Homo sapiens: one gene and its partner. The protein of the gene in region 2 interacts with the protein of the main gene of each other region in a pairwise test. Each region holds a gene or a part of one and is shown on either strand. Other genes may lie near its edges. The genes, in order: NOVA1 and RPP14.

What was found.
Region 1: the proteins of RPP14 (region 2) and NOVA1 interact in a two-hybrid assay, tested with the Homo sapiens proteins (one large-scale study listed by BioGRID and IntAct).

Annotation. Positions count from the first base shown.
Region 1 is NC_000014.9:26,595,186-26,599,628, forward strand, and holds the start of NOVA1 (RNA-binding protein Nova-1), read right to left. Parts: upstream 2,849-4,443; 5' UTR 2,252-2,848; coding exon 2,116-2,251; intron 1,898-2,115; exon of another isoform or gene 1,413-1,897; coding exon of another isoform or gene 1,388-1,412; intron 913-1,387; exon of another isoform or gene 713-912; intron 369-712; coding exon 225-368; intron 1-224. UniProt on the Homo sapiens protein: Functions to regulate alternative splicing in neurons by binding pre-mRNA in a sequence-specific manner to activate exon inclusion or exclusion. It binds specifically to the sequences 5'-YCAY-3' and regulates splicing in only a subset of regulated exons.
Region 2 is NC_000003.12:58,309,245-58,313,057, reverse strand, and holds part of RPP14 (ribonuclease P protein subunit p14), read right to left. Parts: intron 2,750-3,813; 5' UTR 2,729-2,749; coding exon 2,652-2,728; intron 2,552-2,651; coding exon 2,467-2,551; intron 1-2,466. UniProt on the Homo sapiens protein: Component of ribonuclease P, a ribonucleoprotein complex that generates mature tRNA molecules by cleaving their 5'-ends.

The DNA of each region.
Region 1 (4,443 bases), on a different chromosome or scaffold from region 2:
TGCAACTGGTCTAATTCACATACACGGTACAACAATTATAGGAAAAAGGCATAATCAACAATAGAAATAATCTGAAAATTTTTCCACAATATATTCCTATAAAGCAATATCTAAATAAAGTCTCCAGTATTGTTTAAAAATTCTTTCAAGACAGCACACAACACAAGTAGATCTTTCTTTCCTGTGGGGAGCTCATCAAACAATCTCTTCACCATTGCACCTACCTGGGTAAAAATCTTTGGACTTAGACAGCTTGATGGTGGCTCCAGTTTCTTTTTGCAACTGAACAATTGTCTGTCCTCCCTTCCCAATTATAGATCCAGCAGCATAACTAGGTATGAGAACCTTTAGAAAATACTGGCCGTCTTCTGAAAAATGCAAAGAAATATACTCGGTTAACACAGTATTTCAAACTTTGTATCCCCTCTCCACCCTCAAGAGAGAAAAACAGCAACTAAAGCACTGGGTATATAACTGCAGGAAATATGAAGTTAAACATTTTTTGAGAATGAAAATAAGCCAATTACATTGAAAAACAAACAGGTACAAAATGTTTCCCATTTTATAGGATTTATACTTTCAAGCTTGGAATTAAAATATAAACATATTCTATTATTTTGCAGCACTGTAAAAACTGATGACTAAATTCCAGTTGTTATTCCAAACATGGAAATCTTCCAATTCTATCTGTGGCAAAATGAAATGAACTGACCCTTTAACAAAACTTCAGAGGTTTATAAGATGACAAACCTTCACTTAACATATTAAAAAAGAAGAAAAGCCCAGGACTGTAAATAGTGATGAGCTATATTTATTTGTCATTAGCAGACACATAAGGACTACAATTAGCCATTGCCTATATCCTACTTAAAGTCCGCAAAACAACCATTCTCCTACCAAATAATCCACCCAAACTGTGGGGTGTATTCCAAGTCTTCAATAACTGCCAGGAAATAACTCAGTGTGGTGGACTGGCAAATCTAACTAATCCTAGTGCATTTCTTTAGCACTTCTTAGTCTACCGTGATCTCGTTTAAGCTCATTAATTAAAGGACCTTAAGAAGAATTCTGCCAATACTAAAAAGCTTAGGAGTCATTTATATTAAATAGGCTTAAAAGTGACAAAACAGGTAATGTTCCTTTCCCAAAATAATCACAACTTTTAAAACGGAAAGGGGGTGGAAGAACCAGGAAAAATAAAATGAAACGTTTTAGAAAATTAAGCCAACTCCACAAACTTTAATTTCCGTCAACTTGATCACATCTTATACAGGAGACACCCCGGTAAATCCAGCTTTCTTAATGTGAATGAATGTTCCAAATGTTGTGGTGTGCCACTCAAAAGACCCCCATCCGTCTACAATGCATATGCTGGAGATAAATTCACCTCTGCTTCGATGCATTGGGTGCATTGTTAAGATGATTCCAGTGCAAATGAAGAAGCGATATCGGTCCCGTTAAAACTCATCTTCCAAGGAAGCGCAGGATGTTAACTAACAAGTCACCGTTCCAGACACCCCCACCCTCGTATGCACCCCCCTGAAGACAAATCAATGAAATATTTGCACCGACAATCTAAGTGCGGTAAGGGCATGCACTCATCAAGATTTTGCATACTACTTGTGGCCCAAAGCAAGAGGATGGAGAGAGGAAAAACTCTCCGGCGCCCCAGTCATTCGCAATCCGCTACCCAAGTGCCATTTATTTATTTATTTTATCAGACTGTTAAACGCAGCGCGCATCTTCGGGCGGCCATCACCTCACTCCGGGGTCATCCTCCTCCTCCTCCTGAATGGACCTTCTTGCCCAGGTCTAGGATATTTACATGGTCAACCTCTGGACCGATTAAATGGAAAGATAGGTCTATTCCGAAAAACTGGTCGCCATTTTGATGAATGATAAACACAGAAATGGAAATGTGTCGGGGACACCTAGGCGCGGGGCAGGTGCAGGGGAGGGGGCGCGGGGCAGGGGCGCAGGGGCCGCCGGGTTCGGGCTGGAGGTGTCCGGGCCGCGGGAGGGAGGGAGGGAAGGAGGGAGGGAGGACGGCGAGGGAGGGAGGCAGGGGCGGGCGGCGGGGGATGGGGCCAGCGGGGAGGTGGAAGCGATACCCACCGCCCGTATTGGTCCTCTTGGTGCTGCCGGCTTCAGGGGGGGCTTCCAGCGGCCTTTTCCGCGAGTCCGGCGGGTCCAGGTCTATGGGAACCCCAGTGTGGGTCCCGTTCTGCTGGATGGGAGCTGCCGCCATCATGTTTGCAGTTCCTGCCGCTGCTACCGGGAGAAGGTTCTCCCTTTTGTTTTGGCTTTTTCTTTTCTTTTTTCTTTTTTTTTTTTTTTTTTTTTTGCGTTTGGGGTTTCTTAAGGTTTTTTTTTTTTAATCGGATCAATATAAATCTCTTTAGGAAAAAAAGCAATGTTGCTGGTTTGTTCTCACTGGGGAGGGGGCAGGGCTGAGGAGCAGCTGCAGTGCAGTGTCAGAAAGGAGACAGGGGAATGGAGGGGGTGTGAGAGACGGAGGGTGAAAGAAGAAGAAGAAAGGAGACAGGGGGAGAGAGTGGAGAAGGGAGAGGGGCGAGTGAATGAGCGGGAGGAGGGGACCGGGGAGGACAGGCAGAGGGAGTGGGAGAGCGCGAGGGCTGGCGGGGCGCGGGGAGAAGCCGAGGAGGAGGGGAGAGTGAGGGAAAGAGTGAATGAGCAGGAGGAGGGGAAGGAGGTGGATGCCGAGAGAGGAGCGAGCGGCAGAGGAGGGCAGGAGCCGGGAAGGAGCGCGGCGGTCCCCGCGCCGCGCTAGCGTTGCGCTCGCTCCCGCTGCTGGTGCTGCCGCCGCCGCCGCTGCCGGAGCGGTTCTGCCGTTGCCTGGGCTGCTCGGCGCTGCTGCTGCTGCCGCCCGGTCTCGCTCATTATTTCTCCCGCTTGTTGGGGGGGGCTGGCGGGGAGGGAGGGGGGTGGCTGTGAGGGGAGGGTAGAGAGGGGTTGAGTTCGTAGACTCCCACACACTTCGCGCTCGGGTCCCTGCCTCTCAGCAGCGCCGCCGCCTCCCAGCGCCGATGCTTCAGCCGGCGGGGCGGCTGAGGGGTGAGGGGGAACTCCGCGGGCGGGGGCGAGGGAGCGTGTGTGCGCGAGCGTGTGCGCGCGCGAGGGGAGCGCGTGCGCGGTGAGGACGCGCGCCGGCGGTTGGGGCGGGGGCGGGGGCCGGGGCGCTCCTGTGGGAAGGGAGGGGTGAAAGGTCGCTGGTCCCCGGCAACACGGCTCAGGCAAACGTAAGCGGCTTGTCGCAGAAACCAAGGGGTCCACGAAACGCGCTAGGCTAGAAGGCGGGAAGGAGAGATTACTGACAGCCGTGCCAGCCAATAAAATAGAAATGTGAGAAAGGTTCTTCGGGCCCCTTCCCAATCAGGAAACTTGGGTGATGAGGGGCAGCGAAGGGGTGGGGTGGGATCTTGGTCCAGCTGGTACTGGAGCGGCGACAATTTTGGCTAGTCTAAGAAGGGCATTCGAGTGACCGTTGACAACGGGTGGGACAGCGTCAGAGCTGGAGGGAGAGCCAGCACTGTATGCTTCCAGGACTTCTTGCTAGGTGCATTAGTTTTTATTTTTAAGAGTTGGGTAAAAGACATTAATTAGTTAGCATCTCACTCATCGGCGATTTTCTACGGTATGATTTCATCCAAAGAGGATTTCTTAATCGCACTGTGTGACACCGTTAGGGGACTTAGAGTGTCACTCGCCGCCTTAAATCCTTTCGGGAACAAGCCAGGATATAAATAAATAAAGCTAGGTGTGGGTCTTCCCTTCACAAGGCGCTGGTAGGCAGACTAAAGACAGGCAACAGCTGAGTGTGCACACAGAACTAAATATTGAACGAAATACGAGTGTCGGAATAAAATTCATTGCCATGTGCACGGCTTATGATTATACAGATCTTGGACATATCACGGACCTGAACGTCAACCCTGCAACACCGGATAAAACATCTAATGTAGCTGGAATAGACTCTGAAAGGACGTTAGGCATTATCTAAATCAAGTCCCTCATTTTACAGATGAGTAAACTGACTCAGTGAAGTATTTTGCTCAAGGTCGTTCATCAAATTAGTAGTTTAATTAACTCAGTGTTCTAGGAAGCAGGGTAGTAGAAAAGCATGGGATTCGGAGTCTGAAATCTTCCTTGGTTTCTGGTCCTTGTAGGCTGTTTTACAAGTGTATCTTGGGCAAATCCCTTAACGTCTTGCCATTTATTAAGGGCTTACTTACCACGTGGCAAACAATCCACTTTGCATGCTGTGTCAATTACATGCAGTATGTCGTGTAGTTATTACTGTCCCCATTTTATGAGGTAGTTTAGGTTTAAAGATATTAGAAATTTACCCAAAGTTACGCAGTTATAAACATTGTAGTAATTTCAAACTCAGGTCTTCGTGACTGCAAAGGCTGCTGTCTTAAG
Region 2 (3,813 bases):
TCGGCTGACCTTGGGATCTGCCTGCCTTGGCCTCCCAAAGTGCTAGGATTACAGGCGTGAGCTACCGTGCCCAGCCCTTTTTTTTTTTTTTTTTTTTGAGACAGAGTCTTGCTCTGTTGCCCAGGCTGGAATGCAGTGGCGTGATCTCTGCTCACTGCAACCTCTGCCTCCCAGGTTCAAGCAATTCTCCTGCCTCAGTCTTCCAAGTAGCTGGGACTACAAGCGTGCGCCACCATGCCCAGCTAATTTTTGTATTTTCAGTAGAGAAAGCGTTTCACCACGTTGGCCAGGCTAGTCTCAAACTCCTGACTGTAAGTGATCTGCTCATCTCAGCCTCCCGAAGAGCTGGGATTATAGGAGTGAGCCACTGCGCCTGGCCCATAAGGAGACTTTCTCATTAAAAGTGGTTCTGCTGCAAATTCCTTATCTCTTCAAGATGGGAAAAGAGTTTGCAGGTGCCAGTCTAGGCCACACTTTGAGTAGCACTGTGCTACAACAATCATTTGTCTAACGTGTTCCTTGTCAAACAGAAGGCATATTAGAATAAACCCAACAAAATTCATCACTTCTGAAAGTTTACTTCTGCAATTTCAAACACAGTTTTAAAATAATCTCTAGGGGAATACAAAAATTAGCTGGGCGTGGTGGCAGGTACCTGTAGTCTCAGCTACTCGGGAGGCTGAGGCAGGAGAATCACTTGAATCCGGGAGGGGCGGGGGGGGGTGCGGAGGTTGTGCCACTGCACTCCAGCCTGGGTGACAGAGCGAGACTCTGTCTCAAAAAATAAATAAATAAAAATAAAATAAAATAATCTCTAGGGGAACCCTCACACACTACTGGGAGGAATGTAAATGTACAACCACTGTGGAGAGCAGTATGGAGGTTTCCCAAAAAACTAAAAATAGGTCAGGTGCAGTGGCTCATGTCTGTAATCCCAGTGCTTTGGGAGGCCAAGGCAGGAGGATTGCTTGAGTCCAGGAGCCTGGGCAACATAGTGAGACCTTGCCTCTACAAGTAAAAAAATTGGCGTGGTGGCACACGCCTGTGGTCCCAGCTACTCGGGATACTGAGGTGGGAGAATCACTTGAGCTTGGGAGGTTGAGGCTGTAGTGAGCCATGACCATGCCACTGCACTCCACCCTGGGCATCACGGCAAGACTTCATCTCAAAAACAAAAAACAAAAGAAACTAAACTAAAAATAGAATACCATTTAATCCAGCAAGTCTACTACTGAGCATAAATCCAAGAGAAAGGAAATCAATTCAAAAAGACATGTGCAGCTGGGCATAGTGGCTCATGCTGTCATCCCAGCACTTTGGGAAGCCAAGGTGGGGAAAAAAAAAAAAAAGGACATATGCACTCTCATATTTATTGTATTCCCAATAGGCAAAATGTAGAACTTAAGTGCCCATCAATGGATAAAAAAAAAAAAGTGGTATATATTACAATGGAATATTATTCAGCCATAAAAAAGAATGAAATTCTGTCATTTGCAGCATCATGAATAGAACTGGAGGCCATTTTGTTAAGTGAAGCCAGCCAGGCACAGAAAGACAACTGTTGCATGTTCTCACTCATATGTGAGAGCTAAAAAAGCAGATCTTGCCAGGCACAGTGGCTCGTGCCTGTAATCCAGCACTTTGGGAGCCCAAGGCGCGTGGATCACCTGAGGTCAGGAGTTCAAGACCAGCCTGGCCAACATGACGAAACCCTGTCTCTAGTAAAAATACAAAAATTAGTTGGGCATGGTAGCGTGTGCCTGTAATCTCAGCTACCAGGGGGGCTAAGGCAGGAAGATCCCTTGAATCTGGGAGGCAGAGGCTGCAGTGAGCCAAGAATGTGCCATTGCACTCCAGCCTGGGCAACAAAGCAAGACTCCATCTCAAAGAAAAACAACAACAACAACAACAACAACAACAAAAAGTAGATTTCATGAGGATAGAAAGTAGATTGGTGATTATCAGAGGCTGGGAAGGGTAGGAGGGTAGAGAGGATGAAGGAGGAAAAAAAGGAATACAAATGTGTTTATTACAATAAATGAATAAAAATTTAAAAATACAGAGTTGTATAATTTATTTTTTTTTTTTTTTTGATGTTTGAAAAGCATTCTTTCTCGATTTTTTTTTTTGTGACAGAGTCTCGCTCTGTTGCCAGGCTGGAGTGCAGTGGCGTTATCTCGGCTCACTGCAACCTCTGCCTCCCGGGTTCAAGCAATTATCCTGCCTCAGCCTCCCGAGTAGCTGGGATTACAGGTGCCTGCCACCACACCCAGCTTATCTTTGCAGTTTTAGTACAGATGGGGTTTCACCATGTTGGCCAGGATGGTCTCGATCTCTTGACCTCATGATCTGCCCACCTCGGCCTCCAAAGTGCTGGGATTACAGGCGTGAGCTACCGCGCCCGGCCTCTTTCTGTATTTCTTACAAAGATCTTTGGAATGTTCAATCTACCAAGTGATTCCATACCTCCCCAAACAGGTCCTTCACAGCCGAAATAAGCAGCTGTTTGAACTGTGCAGCATTCAGTCCAACTCCACAATCTTGAAATTCTCTAAAAAAAGTGAAAAAAAAAAAAGTCATATTAAATTTCATTCTATTCAGATTCATGTTAGAAAAGTAATCTAAAATAGAACTTAGGAAACTAAACTTACAGGCAGACTTTCATGTAGTGGTACTCGGAAGGGTTTTTGTAAACTACTCTTTCATATGTGGCAGCAGGGGCAGGCATCTTTTCCAGTGCTGATCACACCTACAGTAAGTCAAGAGGGCTAGAAATGACCAATGCACATGCTATTTTTCAGAGTTTTGATGAGAATTTGGCCTATTTGGGTTTTTTTTGTTTGTTTGTTTTAAGGCAGGGTCTCACCCTGTCACCTAGGCTGAAGTGCAGTGGTACAATCAGAGTTCACTGCAGCCTCCACCTCTGGCTCTCGAGGCTCAGGTGATCCTCCTGCCTCAGACTCCTGAGTAGCTGGGAGTATAGGCACGTGCCACCACATCCAGCAGATTTTTGTATTTTTTGTAGAGACAGGGTTTCACCATGTTGCCCAGGCTGGTTTCAAACTCCTGGGCTCAAGCAATTTGCCCAACTCAGCCTCCCAAAGTGCTGGGATTACAAGTGTGAGCCACCAGGCCCGGCCTTCCTGTTATTATTATTTTTTTTTTGGAGAAGGAGTCTTGCTCTGTCGCCCAGGCTGGAGTGCAGTGGCACAATCTTGGCTCACTGCAACCTCTGCCTCGCGGATTCAAGCAATTCTCCTGCCTCAGCCTCCCGAGTAGCTGGGATTATAGGAATGTGCTACCACGCCCGGCTACCTTTTTTGTATTTTTAGTAGAGACAGGGTTTCACCATATTGGTCAGGCTGGTCTCGAACTCCTGACCTCGTGATACGCCTGCCTCGGCCTCCCAGAGTGCCGGTATTACAGGTGTGAGCCACTGTGCCTGGCCTCCTGTTTGGTTTTTAAGACTTCTGAGCACAGTAACTCATCTAATTCTGATCAAACTAAGGTTACCCATACGAATACAAAATAAGTTTCTATATTCTATAAATGTCAAATCACTGTACTCTTACTTAAAACATAACAACATAATTTTGGCTAACAATTTTCCTTATGAGCACCCAGCTCTTTGCTAAACATTTCACATGCCTTAGCTTGTCTTCAAAATGCTCCTGAGGTAAGAGGTATTATTATTCCCATTTTCGAGAAGATGACACAGAGGTTTAGTAAACGTAGGTAACATCTGCCCAAGGGTGCCCAGAGATTCCAACCACTCTGAGCCCACTCAAGACCAGTTACGATGCCTCTTTATCC